Linked DNA regions of Homo sapiens. The protein of the gene in region 1 purifies or fractionates together with the protein of each later gene. This does not show direct contact. Each region holds a gene or a part of one and is shown in the gene's direction. Other genes may lie near its edges. The genes, in order: IFIH1, IFI27, TNKS2 and FAM168B.

What was found.
Region 2: the proteins of IFIH1 (region 1) and IFI27 purify together in Homo sapiens (affinity purification with western blotting; one study listed by BioGRID). This does not show direct contact.
Region 3: the proteins of IFIH1 (region 1) and TNKS2 purify together in Homo sapiens (affinity purification with western blotting, with the first as the bait; one study listed by BioGRID). This does not show direct contact.
Region 4: the proteins of IFIH1 (region 1) and FAM168B purify together in Homo sapiens (co-immunoprecipitation; one large-scale study listed by IntAct). This does not show direct contact.

What each region holds. Positions count from the first base shown.
Region 1 is NC_000002.12:162,276,899-162,280,928, reverse strand, and holds part of IFIH1 (interferon-induced helicase C domain-containing protein 1), read left to right. Parts: intron 1-816; coding exon 817-933; intron 934-2,600; coding exon 2,601-2,724; intron 2,725-3,235; coding exon 3,236-3,514; intron 3,515-3,982; coding exon 3,983-4,030.
Region 2 is NC_000014.9:94,109,488-94,113,597, forward strand, and holds the start of IFI27 (interferon alpha-inducible protein 27, mitochondrial), read left to right. Parts: upstream 1-1,310; intron 1,311-1,327; exon of another isoform or gene 1,328-1,491; intron 1,492-2,137; 5' UTR 2,138-2,195; coding exon 2,196-2,286; intron 2,287-4,110. UniProt on the Homo sapiens protein: Probable adapter protein involved in different biological processes. Part of the signaling pathways that lead to apoptosis.
Region 3 is NC_000010.11:91,839,701-91,843,730, forward strand, and holds part of TNKS2 (poly [ADP-ribose] polymerase tankyrase-2), read left to right. Parts: intron 1-860; coding exon 861-1,006; intron 1,007-1,582; coding exon 1,583-1,748; intron 1,749-2,471; coding exon 2,472-2,691; intron 2,692-4,030. UniProt on the Homo sapiens protein: Poly-ADP-ribosyltransferase involved in various processes such as Wnt signaling pathway, telomere length and vesicle trafficking.
Region 4 is NC_000002.12:131,055,286-131,059,315, reverse strand, and holds part of FAM168B (myelin-associated neurite-outgrowth inhibitor), read left to right. Parts: intron 1-3,620; coding exon 3,621-3,763; intron 3,764-3,866; coding exon 3,867-4,030. UniProt on the Homo sapiens protein: Inhibitor of neuronal axonal outgrowth. Acts as a negative regulator of CDC42 and STAT3 and a positive regulator of STMN2. Positive regulator of CDC27.

The sequences.
Region 1 (4,030 bases):
TATGTTATTCTAGGAATCTAGGTAATTCAAATTAAAGGGAAATAGGGATATGAAGATCTTTAAAGATGAGCTTGTCAGCTGCCCCCTAATGGTAACACCACATACAGTGCTACTGTTAATCTTGAGTGTTAAGTAAATCAGAGTAGCCCAAGAAGTATTTTGGTACCAAGGCAATTGCATTTGAATTTTAAGTCCCTTACTTTAAGTTGAATTCAATACAAATTATGTAGAGTAGACACAACATTCAGAGATGCAATTATAGGCTCCAAAATATAATTTATTACTGGGATTAAGGACTAATTCCAATCTAATAATCAAGGAACATGACTAAGGATGCTCCCAGCTTTATGTGTAGATGCCTGCTTTATGTGTAGAAGAAGGTGGTAGTATGATCCACGGATGTCAAGTTGACCTTTGATATGCCTCATGTAACATGGTTATCTCAAAATCATTCTCTGTCAATGATGGTAAATTGTTATACTCTTTCCATGTCAGTTTTCCACTTGGAAAATGGAATTTAAGGAATGAATATCAATACACCTTTTTCTCTGTTATTACACCAACTTGATTTAGAAGCTCCTTTTTCCTATATTAGGACAAATGTTGCTGATTGTGGGTTAATGAGATCCATAATAAAACAATGTTAAAATGCTATATTTAGCAAGCAATGCTACATATTACTTTCATGAAATTTTATACCACATATTTATGCTACAATTTAATGCTACATATTTTTTACATGAAAAAGAGTTCTACGTTGAATAAAGTGAAAGGGAAAAATAATTGCATAAATATTGAAAAATGTCTCTTTTCCAGCTATGTGCCAATCTTGATGCATTTACTATTAAAACTGTTAAAGAAAACCTTGATCAACTGAAAAACCAAATACAGGAGCCATGCAAGAAGTTTGCCATTGCAGATGCAACCAGAGAAGTATGGGCTTAATGTTTTATATCTATTGATTGACAATACTACATTCAGTAGAAAGATGGCAAAGGCTATTTTATACTGACCATCTGAAAAATATTATTTAAAAATTTTAGCAAACAAGTTTCAGGTTTTTTTTTAATTGATGTTAGGCAGTAAAGCACTACAGTGAATTCTCGCCTCTAGACCTCTTTTAGTTTTCTAATTTACATGAGGAATAGCTTATTCATTGTTTGTACATATGAGTTAAAAGGGACAGTGAGGGGCCATGGGCAGAGGGATGTGTAACTAAGCTGGAGGGGTTATGACAGTTCGTTTTAGCCTTTTTAATTTTCTTCGTGAATTCCAGGATTGATTTTCTGACATTCCACAGAGCCATTTTGTTGCTATCAAATTACATTTGGCAATGATAATGGGAATCCTATCTAATTTGCATACTTGCATATTTACTTTCTTAGGAAAACAGTGCAATGGTAAAGAAGTGAAATATTTACTTTAATGATGCTTTTCTGATGAATTTTTCAGGAATTATAAGAATAAACTGAGAGTCAATTTGGACATTATGGCCAGTAAATTATGTCAATACTTTATTTTGTAAAATTTAGAAAGCATTACAAATTCTGGCCATATGTACTTGATAATACCATTGAAAATAAGAATGTTGGGATCAAATGATATGAAATATGCATAGTAGATAAAACAATGCTTGAAATATAGTAGGCACTAAACCAATGTTAGTAACTAGCCTCCGTATATCTCTTTTTTTAAATTCTGAAAAAGACTGCTATCTACTCCAGCTGCACTAGCACAGTTGAATATATTTTATTCACTTTCCTTTTTTTGTTACTTATTTGGTTTTACTTGATAATTTTAAATGCATGTTTCTACTCATAAAGATTTTTAAAACTAAATTTCTCAGGTACATTTTTTAAAAGAATTTGCCATTTTTTAAACTTACTTTAATTTTTTTATATACCTTGAAGCATAACATACATACAGAAAAGTACAAATTCATATGTGTACTGATTGCTGAATTTTCCTAAACTGAATACACATATGTAAACAAAATCCAAATCAAGAGACAGCACACTGCCAGTATCCTAAAAGCTCCTGGCTCCCCCTTCCAGTCACCATGCCCCAGGAATCACTACTATCTTGACTTCTAAAACAAAAAATGAGTTTTCACTGATTCTGAACTTTATATAAATGGAATCATATAGCATGCACTCCTTTATTTCTGGCTTTATTCAGACTCTACTTCAACTTTTTATTTTGGTCGAAATAATACTGAAACCAGTTTTACAAAGGAGGAATGTTTCTTAAATTACACTGTAAGCTTTCTAAATAATTGTGGCATTAATGCAATATGTGTTTTCTAAGTTACCTTTAACATACAAGGTTTATATAATTCATTAACTTTACTTTTGTTAACCTTTTAAGTTGGAGATTCCAGCAGAGGTAACAGGGTGTTGGTGTGGGTGTGGCTTGATGGCAGGCTTAAAAGAGAAGCTGACAAAAATAAATGTACAGACAAGTGATGGGACACTAACCTGTTACTTTGTCTAAACAAAGATGAATCAGATTTATTATAACCTAGAAATTATTCTAACAAAGATAATGTTATTCCTTTAACAATAAGAATACATAAGAATAAGTGTGTACTTTATTTTTAGGATCCATTTAAAGAGAAACTTCTAGAAATAATGACAAGGATTCAAACTTATTGTCAAATGAGTCCAATGTCAGATTTTGGAACTCAACCCTATGAACAATGGGCCATTCAAATGGAAAAAAAAGGTAATTTAGGTTTGGACCTAACACTTAGTTTATCCCATGTTTATACCAAGATTTTAGATGACTATATCACAGATTCCCCAAAAAATGGAAAGCAAAAGTAGTTCCAAATAGAATTTCTGTGTTCTCTGTAGGACAAGCATAATAAACATGTTCTAATTCCTTTTCTAAGGAGAGAGATTCCAATGCTATCCAATTTTCTCTTTGTCTCCAGAGTCTTGAGATAAACTTTAATAGCTCTGTCTCCAAAGGCAAACTCAACTAATATATTTTCATGCCATTTCTCTGTGCATCAGCTACATGTTTTTGCTGAGGCAGAACTCAAGCAGCAAGTCTAGGAGTTGGAAAACTTGCCCTGTTTCAGAGCTCAGGACACATTTTGAGCCTTAACTTGCCCATTTTAAAACCAAGGTGAAGCCAGTTTTGCAGTTAGTAACATATATTCAAGTCCATGGCACAATTTTAGGGGGTTTATATGCTTATTATTTCACTTACATAATATATTTTTTCACAGCTGCAAAAGAAGGAAATCGCAAAGAACGTGTTTGTGCAGAACATTTGAGGAAGTACAATGAGGCCCTACAAATTAATGACACAATTCGAATGATAGATGCGTATACTCATCTTGAAACTTTCTATAATGAAGAGAAAGATAAGAAGTTTGCAGTCATAGAAGATGATAGTGATGAGGGTGGTGATGATGAGTATTGTGATGGTGATGAAGATGAGGATGATTTAAAGAAACCTTTGAAACTGGATGAAACAGATAGATTTCTCATGACTTTATTTTTTGGTAAGATTCAAAGTAACATATACTGGTGTCATTCATTTACCTTTTCAACATGAACTTACTGCTTCTCATAAGCTCTCCAAAAAGAGAAATATCTTTTGAAAGAAGAAATCCCACTCAGATTGGAACTATTTCTAATGATATGACCAGATTAGCTACCAGTTGTATGATCACAGTCAGTCATTTGGTCATTCAGTTTTATTGTCAAGACAATTGTAATGAATTTATTTATTAAACCATCCTAATTATTAGATATAGCGCAAGATTGTAGATGAGCCACAATTCATGAAACCTTCTAGTGTAATTCGTTGTATGTTTTACTAATTTATACTTCCAAATAGTTTTTAAATTAATTAATTTTTAATCAATAAAACTGTATATTTTTGGTGTACAAAATGTTTGATATATCTGTACATTGTGGAGTGGCTAAATCAAGCTTGTTAACATATCAACTCTAATTATTTCTTAAAGAAAACAATAAAATGTTGAAAAGGCTGGCTGAAAACCCAGAATATGAAA
Region 2 (4,110 bases), on another chromosome or scaffold:
CGCCAAGTGTCAGTAGTTGCTAGGTAGGACTGGGAATCTTGGAGTTATGGTCAGGTTCCTGCAGTTTTGGATTGGGTTTGTGAGACACTGTGCCAGGCAAGTGTTTTTGCATAACTGGCTCGCTCTCCCTGTGCTTCTAGCTGTCCTTGTGTGGCCCATGTGATAAGCTGCAGTTTGGAAACATTTCTTGTGATAGTTCCTGTTAGCAGGCAAACGGGAGAGCCTCATCTTGCGTGAGAGCCCTCCCATTAAAGCCTTGCTGGCTCTGTCTGCTGAGGTTTTACCCAAGTGACTCCATTTTGAATCTTACAACTCGCACACTACTCATGTGGAAGATTTAAATGTACATTCCAGGACCTGGTGCTTTCTCTTCCGCCTGTTCTCAAAGCAGCTGCAGGGTGAGCCTGACTGTGTCATTTCTCAGCTTCATCTCCCTTTCCCCAAAAAGGTATAGATGATAATCCCCTGCAATGGCTTCAGGACACAAGATCAAGTCCTTGCAGTGCTTTTGTGGCCTCACAGGGCCTGGATCCCTGTTAAACTCTGAGTTCACCTCCTGCCTCTCTCCCCTGCCCACCTGCTGAGGCCACACTGGCCCCCTTGCTGCTCCTGCCACACGGGCTCTGCCACTGCTGTGGCCTCCACCTGGAATGACTGCCCCCCCATAATTCTGCCTAGGTCACTGCTTCACCTCCTTTTGCTTTAGCGCTTCATCAAATAACATTCTATACATTTAGTTATTTATTATGTTTAGTTTGCCCCCATTGCTGGTAAACTCTGTGAGGATGGATATTTTGGTCTGTTTTGTTTACAGTCCTGTCCCAGTGCCTAGTCAGTATCTAGCACAGTGGGCCTTCAGTTGAGACTTTTTTTGAAAAACGGAACATCTGCCTATCGCAAGGACTACTATTATTCTGAAAATCACCTTCTTCATTAGAAAGTAATATTTATCATTTTATTATAGAACTTTGATCTTACTTCTTGTGACTTCATTCTGCGTAGAGCACACTCCCATCCTTGAATTAAATGACAAAGCATTTTATATTAACTGACAATGACTGATGCCATGGGCAAATCCTATTTCTGTAAATAACTGAATTTTCTTCTGGACTGCGCATGAGGGGAGAAAGATGTCTGCAGTTTCGGTTTCCTGGAAAATGAAACCTATCTCATTTGTTGCCTGTGTCAAGGGGCAGTGCTTCAGTCGGGGTGGAGCTGCTTAAAAGGCCTGGGATCACACCCTTTGGGAACACATCCAAGCTTAAGACGGTGAGGTCAGCTTCACATTCTCAGGAACTCTCCTTCTTTGGGTAAGACTGGGAGGGTGGGCAGGAGCTACCCTTCCCGTGGCCCCGGACCTTGGGTGGGCTGTGGGCTCAGGGAGCGGAGGGGAGGCCTTAAGCATCCACTCTCTGCCCGGTGTTTTTGTTCTCATCAGGGAGCCTCAGATGGGAAGGGACTCGAGCCCCACCTGTCCCTGGACTCTGGAATGTAAGGACAATTAGCTTTGTCCTTGCCCAGGTTTTCCTCAGGCCTTGAGGGCGGCTTGGGGTAAAGTGGGCAAGGGGAAGAGATAAGTGTTAGGAGGAACCAAGTCGAAGCCATTGCAAGTCCATGCCTGGGCGGGGTGTTGCTTCCCTATGGAAAGCTTCTGACCTGGAGCAAATCACTGAGCCAGATCGCGCTCCCTCATCTGTAACATGCGGAGGAGGAGGGTCCCATCTTTTTCACGTTAGTGAGGAGATTACATAAGAGCAGGCACCTCGCCTGCTGTATATGCCTTAAAAATGCGATTGGTTCTGATTTCTTAGTTTTGGTGCTTTTTCAATTGCTCCGTGGAGAGATAAGGGAGTCCCGGAAGTGTCTAAGACATTGGCGCTGGGACTTTCAGGAGAAAGAAAGCAGCCCCCCTGGGGAAATAAAGTCCCTCAGGGCCCTGACCTAACACAGGTCCTTTGGTAGCCCCAACTCCCCAACATCCCTCCCTCCCTCACCCCAGGATCCTTTCAAGGCCTGCTGCTCCACAAGCTCAGAGCAGCCTCCCTAGCCCCCTGGAGCCCGTCACATTTTTCAGGACAGTGGGAAGCAAGTCAGGTTGTGTGCCCATCCCGTCCTCAGAGCTCCATCCCTTCGGCAGGTCTGGCTGAAGTTGAGGATCTCTTACTCTCTAGGCCACGGAATTAACCCGAGCAGGCATGGAGGCCTCTGCTCTCACCTCATCAGCAGTGACCAGTGTGGCCAAAGTGGTCAGGGTGGCCTCTGGCTCTGCCGTAGTTTTGCCCCTGGGTGAGTGTTCCTGGGAGGGGCTGGTGCTGGGGGCGAGGAGGCGGCTGGGAAGGGCGGGGGTCCTGTCCCGGGACCCGTGGGAGAGAAAATGGGGGACACCCGCAGCCTTGCTGCCCTGTCCTGTCTTCTCACAGCAGGCGTCCACCCTAACTTTCCATCTGGGAGGGGGCCCGGGGCAGGCAGACTCTGGCCAGATGCCCAGCCCTGGGTGTTCCACAGGTCCTCTCCCCTCTGGGCCCGGGCCTCCTCCTGCCTAGCCGGAAAGGGTCTATCTACCACTGAGTCCCACTCTCTTCAGCTCTCCCTTCCCCCAGATTCACCATCAGAATTCATCTCCTTTAGGAGTTTACCTTGTCAATAGGGCCCCGTGTCCTATGGGATCTCACATCCAGAGTATCGATTTTAACAAAATTCTTCAGCTCACTTTTTTCATTAGTTTCTGGGAGATCTCTTTCTGGTTTTATTTATTCTCATTTTCTTCCTTTTCACCCTCGATTCCCCTCCCTCAAAGTCAACCTTTCTAATATATTTAATGTGTGTCTGTTTTTCATATGTATTTTTGCAGAATGGGTATTGTGTTTTGTTTGCGGGCATTTTAACTGACATGCAGGATGGTGTGCTGTAGATCCCATTCTATTGCTTTTTTCCACACTGAGAACCATATTCTTGAGATCCATCAGTGTCATTCGATGAGCATCTAATCCTGGCTTCTACCTGCTGACAAGTGCTCCTCTGTGTGTATCCCCTGCCCTTTACCTTTCTGTCTCCGTGGGTGGACATCCAGGGGTTCCCCCAACTCCGCCAGCACAAATGGCACAGGCTTGAATGGGGGCACAGGGCCCCTGACTCCGACCCTGACTTCTGACCCCTGCCCCAACCTCTAACCTCTGTTTGAGCCTGCACTCACCCTTTGCTGACCCTGTCATCCTCAGCTGCCCTGAGCCCCAACATCTCTCTCCTCAGACCCTTGCTGGGGGCACTGGAGGCTAGCTCCTTCATGCTGGGGTCCCTCACTGGCACCCTGTTTTGCAACTTGGAGGTAACTGGCCCTCGGCAACACACACCACTCTGGGCTCCCAACTCAGTACAGAGAAGTGTGATGAGCAAGCAAGGGCCTGGGCCACGCCCAGCAGTCCTTTCTGTTTGTCAGAAATGCAGATGACTTCTCAGTTTAAGATCAAGCAATTCATAAAATTAAAATAATAACAGCTCAACTTAAGCAAGCGCTTTTATGTTCTAGTCACTTACCCTAGCACTTGAGGTTTGTCAATTTAATTCTCATAACAACCCCAGAGGAAGATAAGAAGATAATATCGTCCCTTATTTACCAACTGGGACAATTTACTGTTGTCCAAGTGCTCTGGGCAGGACAGAAGGGTGTGGGTGTGCTGCTTCCAGGCTTGGAACAGGAGGTAGAACAATGAACAATGACAGAAAGTATTAATAGGCCAGGCACGGTGGCTCACACCTGCAATCCCGGCACTTTGGGAGGCCAAGAAGGGCGGATCACTCGAGGTCAGGAGTTTGAGACCAGCCTGGCCACCACGGTAAAACCCTGTCTCTACCAAAAATACAAATATTAGCTAGGCATGGTGGTGCATGCCTGTAATCCCAGCTACTTGGGAAGCTGAGTCAGAAGAATCACTTGAATCCAGGAGGCAGAGGTTGCAGTGAGCCGAGATTGTGCCACTGCACTCCAGGCTGGGTGACAGAGCTAAGATTCTGTCTCAAAAAAAAAGAAAGAAATATTAATAGAAGTAGGAAAAGGTTGGAGGGAGGTCTCAGGGTAGGGCAGGTTCTGAATGGCACGAAATAATGGCCAGG
Region 3 (4,030 bases), on another chromosome or scaffold:
TCCACACCAGTTACACTGAAAATTTGAGGGTTGGACCCAATGCACATTAAAGTTTGAGAACCACTGCTCTAAAGGAGTACTTTTCAAACTTTAATGTGTTTCCATATTACCTAGGGATCTTGTTAAAGGGCAAATTCTGACTCAGTAGATAGAGATCTGAGATTCTGAATTCTTAATAAGCTCCTTGGTAATGCTGGTACTACCGTAATCTCATGTACCTCTATGTATATTTGCCACAAAATGCAAGTTACACTTGCTGATGATTGGCACTTAGTTTACCTGTATATATATATAGTAGCGGTAATGATAAAATTTACCCTTGAGCGTTAGAAAAAGTAGAATATAAAGGCATACGTGAGACCAGGCACGGTGGCTCACACTTGTAATCCTAGCATTTGGAAGGCCAAGGTGGGAGGATCCCTTGAGGCCAGGAGTTCAAGACCATCCTGGCCAACATGGTGAAACCCCGCCTCTACTAAAAATATAAAAATTAGCCAGGTGTCCTGGCATGTGCCTGTAGTCCCTGCTGCTCGGGAGGCTGAGGCAGGAGAATTGCTTGAACCCAGGAAACAGAGGTTGCAGTGAACTGAGATTGCGCCACTGCACCCCAGCCTGGGTAAGAGAGCTAGACTCTGTCTCAAAAAAATAATAAGACAAAAAAAAAGGGCATGGATGAGAGGACCAGAGGGATTCCCAGTAAATGACAAGGTGAAATAAGAATACTAAATAGTTTCTGAGAATACTGATTTAATGAGACAAGAAAATAAGTCAGACACTTTGAAAATTCCTACTAAATGACTTGAAACAAGAAATAACAATATGTAGATGTAGTATCATGTATGTTGTGTTTTGTCCTTCAGAAACTGTGTACTGTTCAGAGTGTCAACTGCAGAGACATTGAAGGGCGTCAGTCTACACCACTTCATTTTGCAGCTGGGTATAACAGAGTGTCCGTGGTGGAATATCTGCTACAGCATGGAGCTGATGTGCATGCTAAAGATAAAGGGTAAATGCCAATGATTGTTATGGACTCTCTTCCTTACTTTTACTTGACCTTTTTAGGAAAACCTGGAAATATAATATGTTTTATTTTTCAAGAAAGCCTGTTTCCTAACATTGGCCTAAATATTAAATAGAGCTTCTTAATTTCAATTAAGATTTTATATGGTTAGCATTCATATAAAGACTTTATTGGCATAATGCCTGAGAATTTTATAATGGCCAAGGAGATTATAACATTAGTGTGATATTGACTTTTAATGTAGTAAATTTTTCAGTTTCCATGGAGGGTTTTTTAATTCTTCCAGTTTATCTTGAAGTTATTTTTTATTAAAAATATACAATTCTAGACGTTGCATATATGGATGAATGTTATAGTCTCTGCATTTAAAACATTTTTTAAATGTTCTCCCCTGACTCACCAAAAAGAACTTATTTCTGCCTTAAATAGATTTAGGTTCTACAAAGTATAATCAGTATAATTCCTTATGTAGTTCAAGAATTATCTTTCATCAGTTATATGTAATTATTTAAATTAAAACATGTTCTTCTGTGGCATTATTGTTCATTTATTACTTTTCAGAGGCCTTGTACCTTTGCACAATGCATGTTCTTATGGACATTATGAAGTTGCAGAACTTCTTGTTAAACATGGAGCAGTAGTTAATGTAGCTGATTTATGGAAATTTACACCTTTACATGAAGCAGCAGCAAAAGGAAAATATGAAATTTGCAAACTTCTGCTCCAGGTATATTTAAATACTTAACTGTAAAGAGTATGAATTACATAGCATATGTTTATGGTTTTCTAAATAATTCTAGTATAAAGTTAAACTAGTAAGCAATGGGAAGCAATGTTACCTAATTCTGTACCTAGATTTTAGAATAAATATAATAAACATTTTATATTTTAATCCACAAGTATGTTTACTAGCACCTAGAGTTATTTTTGTCTAGAGCCAACTATCATGTGATAGTTCTCTTATTATTTTTAGTTTTTCTCTTTGGTACTTTTATATTCATCAAATATAAAAATATTTGATGAATTATTTACTTACAAGCCAGATTTATTTAGCATTGATAAAATGGATGATACTGGTTCAGTACAGATACCAGTGGATATTTTACAATAACAAGAATACAGAGATTTATACTTTATTTAAATGTTCATGAAAAGTAAAAATAGTATAACATGAAAGTTAATTTTTAATGAAATATGACTTTATTTTGAATGTAGTTTAAAATTTTGACTACATTAATGCATTAAAAAATCCAGTAATATTTAACTGCCTCTGTATTCTTTTTATAATAATTCTTTGTATAAACATTAGTAACAGTGATGTTAACCTTCAAAGTAGAGTCTCAATATAAATTTAGTTTTTCTTTGGTATAGTTAACACTGACTATTTTCTCATTGACCAAAGGCACATTTAAGCCATTTCCCCCTTTTTTTCTGTTTTTCACATGCCTAGCATGGTGCAGACCCTACAAAAAAAAACAGGGATGGAAATACTCCTTTGGATCTTGTTAAAGATGGAGATACAGATATTCAAGATCTGCTTAGGGGAGATGCAGCTTTGCTAGATGCTGCCAAGAAGGGTTGTTTAGCCAGAGTGAAGAAGTTGTCTTCTCCTGATAATGTAAATTGCCGCGATACCCAAGGCAGACATTCAACACCTTTACATTTAGCAGGTAAGTGAATGAAGTTTCACAGATTTAGGCTGGTAATATCTGAGATTCATTTTACCCAGGTAAAATATTTTCTGTAACTAAACTTTAAAAATTCAAATCAGGCCAAGCATGGTGGCTCACACTTGTAATCCCAACACTTTATGAGGCTAAGGCAGGAGGATTGCTTGAGCCCAGGAATTTGAGAGCAGCCTGGGCAACATGGCAAAACCACACCTCTATAAAAAATTACAAAAATTAGCCAGGAGTGGTGGTGTGCACCTGTAGTCCCAGCTATTCAGGAGGCTGAGGTGGGAAGATTGAGCCCAGGAGGTCACGGATGCAATAAGCCTTGATTGTGCCACTGTACTCCAGAAACAAAGTGAGACCCTGTCTCAAAAAATAAAAAAAATAAATAAAAATTCAAATCAAGTATCTTCTAATGCCACCATTATACTCTTCAGTGTATTTGTACAGGACGACCGTACTTGAAGCTATTAGCTGAGTTCGAGTTCACTTTATTACTAGTATGTTACATTCAGTAAGAACAATTGAAGTAGGCTCTGCCAGTCCCCATGTGCTTTGGGAATCATTATTCCAGGTAATCATTTTATTGGTATCACCTTTGGTAAACAAGTTTTGAAAAATATGCCTACTTGAGCCAGCCTTCCTTATAGGAAGCTAAAGCTTTCTATTTTTCCTGATGGTAGCTGCTAAGCACAAGCAGGAAAAAAAAAAAATCTCAAAACTCTCAGAAGTTACATAAGCCTCTCACCAAAGTTATCTGTTGTTTTGGTTTGTGAGAGTTCTCATAACAAAATACCAAAGACCAGGTGGCTTAAACAACAGAAATTTGTTTTCTCACAGTTCTGGAGGCTAGGAGTCCAAGTTCAAGGTGTTGGCAGAGTTGGTTTCTTCTGAAACCCCCTCTTGGCTTGCAGCTGTCTACCTTCTCAGTGTGTCCTCCATTGGAACATGGTGTCTCTTTCTATATGTCCTAGTCTCTACTTTTAAGGAAACCAGTCAAATTAGATTAGAGCCCACCCTAATGGGCTCATTTTAACTTTTTTAGCTCTTTAAAGGCTCTGTCTCCAAATAGAGTCATATTCTAAGGTACTGGGGTTAGGGCTTCAACATAAGAATTTTGCAGGGTACAATTCATTTCGTGACATTTGTTTTAAGGTTTCACTCATAAAACTGGCACAGTGTACCTTTGTTTTCAGTGCAAATATACAATATATTGTGGTTTCAGTACAGCTTTTTCAGCTGCATTACAGATGTTAGGAAATCATTAAAATCACTGAGCTATAGCTAATACCTCAGTGGAGTTCCATCATAGACACAGCGGACTCATACAAGTTTG
Region 4 (4,030 bases), about 31 Mb from region 1:
ATCCTTGCCCCACCTGCCCCTCTCTGAGCTGACTCCTCATTGCTTGCCAAGACTGCATAAAATGCTGCTATGTTGGTGGTTTGTTTTCCTGTGATTTCTTTTCCCCCTGAAGCCAAGCACCTTATGGAGAGGGCTGGATCTGTCCTGATCATCTCCGCTGTGACAGGGCATGGCCCCATGTTGATGGTGAATAGCCTCTCTGTGTTGGTACAATGCCCCAGTCACCATTCACTAGTCACATGTGTGCCCGCCACACACCATGCTTCCTTTTTGCATTTCTTCCCTGAGTTAGCTAGTCACTTAGGGGGAATTGGACTGTCCCGGGTCTCCTGGGAGTATCAGTACATGGCCGGACACACTACCTTTTCCTTTATAATTCTTTGATGGCATTCACACTACCTTTTTCTTTATAATTAAAGAAAATGTTATACAACCTCGTTGTGGCGTAATTGGCATACAACTAAGTGTACAGATTTAAAGCTTCAGTTTGATGAGTTTTAACCTGTGTACACCTGTGAAGCTTTCCTTTTCACTTTCCTTTTTTAGCCTTCTTAAAGACGAGGAGATGAGCAGCCAGAGAAGGAAACTCTGTAACTGCTCTTGTCTTGAAACTTGCTTTTCCAAATCCTAATGGAAAATCTGCGTATTCTGCTTTCCTTTGGCCAAGCACCAGTATTAAAAAGTTGTTGTATTCAAATTTTGGCAGTGTTTCTATTTACGGTTAACATAGCGGTGAGCGAATTTCAAAATACAGGGAGCCCTGGAGGAATCTTTTCTTTCTTCAAATGGAGACTAGCTGAGGTTGGGAGTTGCTTGGTTTGGGTAGAAGGGTCAGGACTCTGGATGCAGACAAATCTGGGTGTGAGCACCCGCTTTGCTGCATAGGACAGGACCACCTGTTGTTTGGTCTGCTGCAGATCTCAGCCACAGCACCTCCCACCGTGAGACCATGAAAGGGCATGCAGGGGAGTATGAGAAGGCTGATGTTGAAGGCTTCGTGTTGCTTAATTGATACAGTGTGCAGTATTTAGGTGAAAAAGCCCAGACTTCACCACTGTGCAATATATCCATGTCACAGAATTGCACTGGCACCCCAAACAAAAGGCCCCAGACTAGTGAATTTCCCAGGGGGCCAATCATTCTCTTTCCCTTTCAAATTAAAACAAAATATATGGACCAGGCACATATATATATACAGGCTCACACCTGTAATCCTACTACTTTGGGAGGCTGAGGCAGGAGGATCATTTGAGGCCAGGAGTTCCAGACTATCCTGGCCAACATGGCAAAATCCCGTCTATACTAAAAATTACAAAAATTAGCTGGATGTGGTGGCACATGCCTGCAATCCCAGCTACTCGGGTGGCTGGGGCATGAGAATTGCTTGAACCCAGGAGGCGGAGGCTGCAGTGAGCTGAGATTGCACCACTACACTCCAGCCTAGGGAATAGAGCAAGACTCCATCTCAAAAAATAAAAATAAAAAAAAAATACACACACGTACATATTGCTAACAGCCCAGTTGTGTAAAATTTTTTAAAAATTAACTTTAATTATTATTACTATTTTTCTGAGACAGCGTCTTACTTTGTCGCCCAGGCAGAATGCAGAGGCATAATTACAGCTCACTGCAGCGTTGACCTCCGGCTCAGGTGATCCAAAATTCTTTATACTCAGCTCATTTTTTCAAACTTGAGGTATAATTTATGCACAAAACACCCACATATTAAGTGCTCAACTGGGTGGGTTTTGACAGTTGTACATGCCCATGGAACCACCACTCCAAATAAAACATGGAATACTTTGATCATCCCAGAACGCTTTCTTCGCCCTCTCCCCTCTGATTTCCGTCACCGTAGGTAAATTTCTTTGTTGTTAGGGAATAAACGGGATCATTGCTCTATGTGCTGTTCTGTTTCCAGCTTCTTTGGAAAGCTCAGCATGTTGTGAGATTCATCCATGTTTTTTCCTTTTGATTGCTGAGTAATGTTTATAGAGACATATCATGATTTATCCTTTCTCCAGTTGATGAAGATTTGGATTAGTTCCCATTTTTGGCTACTAGGAATAAGATTGAACACTTTTTACAAGTCTTTCGTGGACCTGTGTTTTCATTTTTCTAGGGGAAGTTTTGGGAGTGGATTGCTGGATGTTGCGGGATGTGTCTCTGGCTTGCAAAGTTGCACTGTCTGACACGGACAGTGTGTGAGTGCTCCACCCCTCCTGCTCTCACCCATGGGAATGTGAGATGCCATAAGCACTTGTATGGAGGTCTGATTTACATATTATAAGTTAATCCTTCTCAGTGTACAGTTTGGTATGTTTGGACAGTCATACACAGCTGTATGACCGTCACCACATTTGAGTGAATGCACTCTTTGGAAAGGTTCTCGCATGCCCCTCTGGCCCCTGGCACCATTGCTGGGGTTTTGATGACTCTGGATTAGGTTGGTCTTTCCTAGAGCTTCTGTCAGTACATGCATCCAGCATGTGTCCTTGTATCTGGCTCCTTTGACATGGTGTGGCTTTGTGATTCATTCATGTGCTTGTATGGATCAGCAGTTTGTCCCTTTGGCTTGCTCAGTAGGATTTGTATGGATGCACCACAGTGTGTTTACCCATTTGTCTCCTGGTGGGCATCTGGGCCATTGCCAGCTTTTGATCATTGTGAATATAGCTGCTGTGAACATAGCTGTCCAGAGACCCTCTCCCTCCCCTGAGACCAAACCCCTCTTCTCTGTTGGGGTCAGGAAGGGACACCTAACTGCTTATTCAGCAAACTCAACCACTCTACTAGATGGGGTCTCTTTATCTGCTTCTGGAGACGGGTTGGTGGCCAGCAGTTTGCAGGGCTTTGGGGAACGGCTCTCTTGGTGCCAGCTGCTCCTCGCTGCTGGCTGAGTGCCTTCTTCTCGAGTCTGCTCAATCATCCTCCACTTCAGCTTGCCAGGCTTCAACATGCTGTCTTCTCTTCCATTCTTGGTGAGTTTTATGTCTTTTTTCTCTTAATCTGCTTTATTGTCATTTTCATGTCATTTTGTGTGGGGACAAAAGCAAGTATGTGTGTTCAGCTTTCTCCCTTAACCCAGAGGGCTTTTTACCATAGAGTGCTTAGCCAGTCCTGGTGCTGGGCAAGTTTCTCCTGTTTTTGCTGTAACAAACAACACTATGATGAGCATGCTTACAGTTAAGTCTCTGTGTGTGTATAGATCCATGTGTATTGCTTTAAGACAGACTTCTAGAAGTGGAATTGTGGGATTAAAAGGCATATATACTTTAGATGCCAAGTTTAGCCCCAGGAATGCCATACCAATTTAAATTCCAGCAGGACAAGACAGTTTTTATTTCCTGTCCTTGTGTGAGCATTCCATCTGTAGAACGTTCTCTTTTGGTATTTTTTCCTCCTCCCCAACACCCTGCCACCACACACACGTGCATGCACACACGTACACAAAGTAAGAATGAAGTCAGATCTTAGTGGAGGAGAGTGGGGGCGGCAGTGGCAGCAGGTCTGGCGAGTTGCGTGGGGCTGACACGCAGCTTAGCTCCTCCCTGCCTGTGTCCTCTCCCTGCGCCTGGACCGGCTTGGGTGAACTCAGGCCATTGCCTTCTTTGTTCCAGGTTACACTCCTGGCACACCTTACAAAGTGTCCTGTTCCCCCACCAGCGGGGCTGTGCCACCGTACTCCTCCTCCCCGAACCCCTACCAGACTGCCGTGTACCCTGTGCGAAGTGCCTACCCCCAGCAGAGCCCGTATGCACAGGTATGCTTGGGTACACACTGCTGTGTGGGAAGGGGTGATACCACCTGGGCGTTCATCCTTTGGCCCTGGGACCCTGTGTCAGTTGTCTCTCTTCTCCCCACAGCAAGGCACGTACTACACACAGCCGCTGTATGCAGCACCTCCTCACGTCATCCACCACACCACGGTGGTGCAGCCCAACGGCATGCCTGCAACGGTGTACCCTGCTCCCATCCCCCCTCCTAGAGGCAACGGGGTCACCATGGGCATGGTGGCTGGGACCACCAT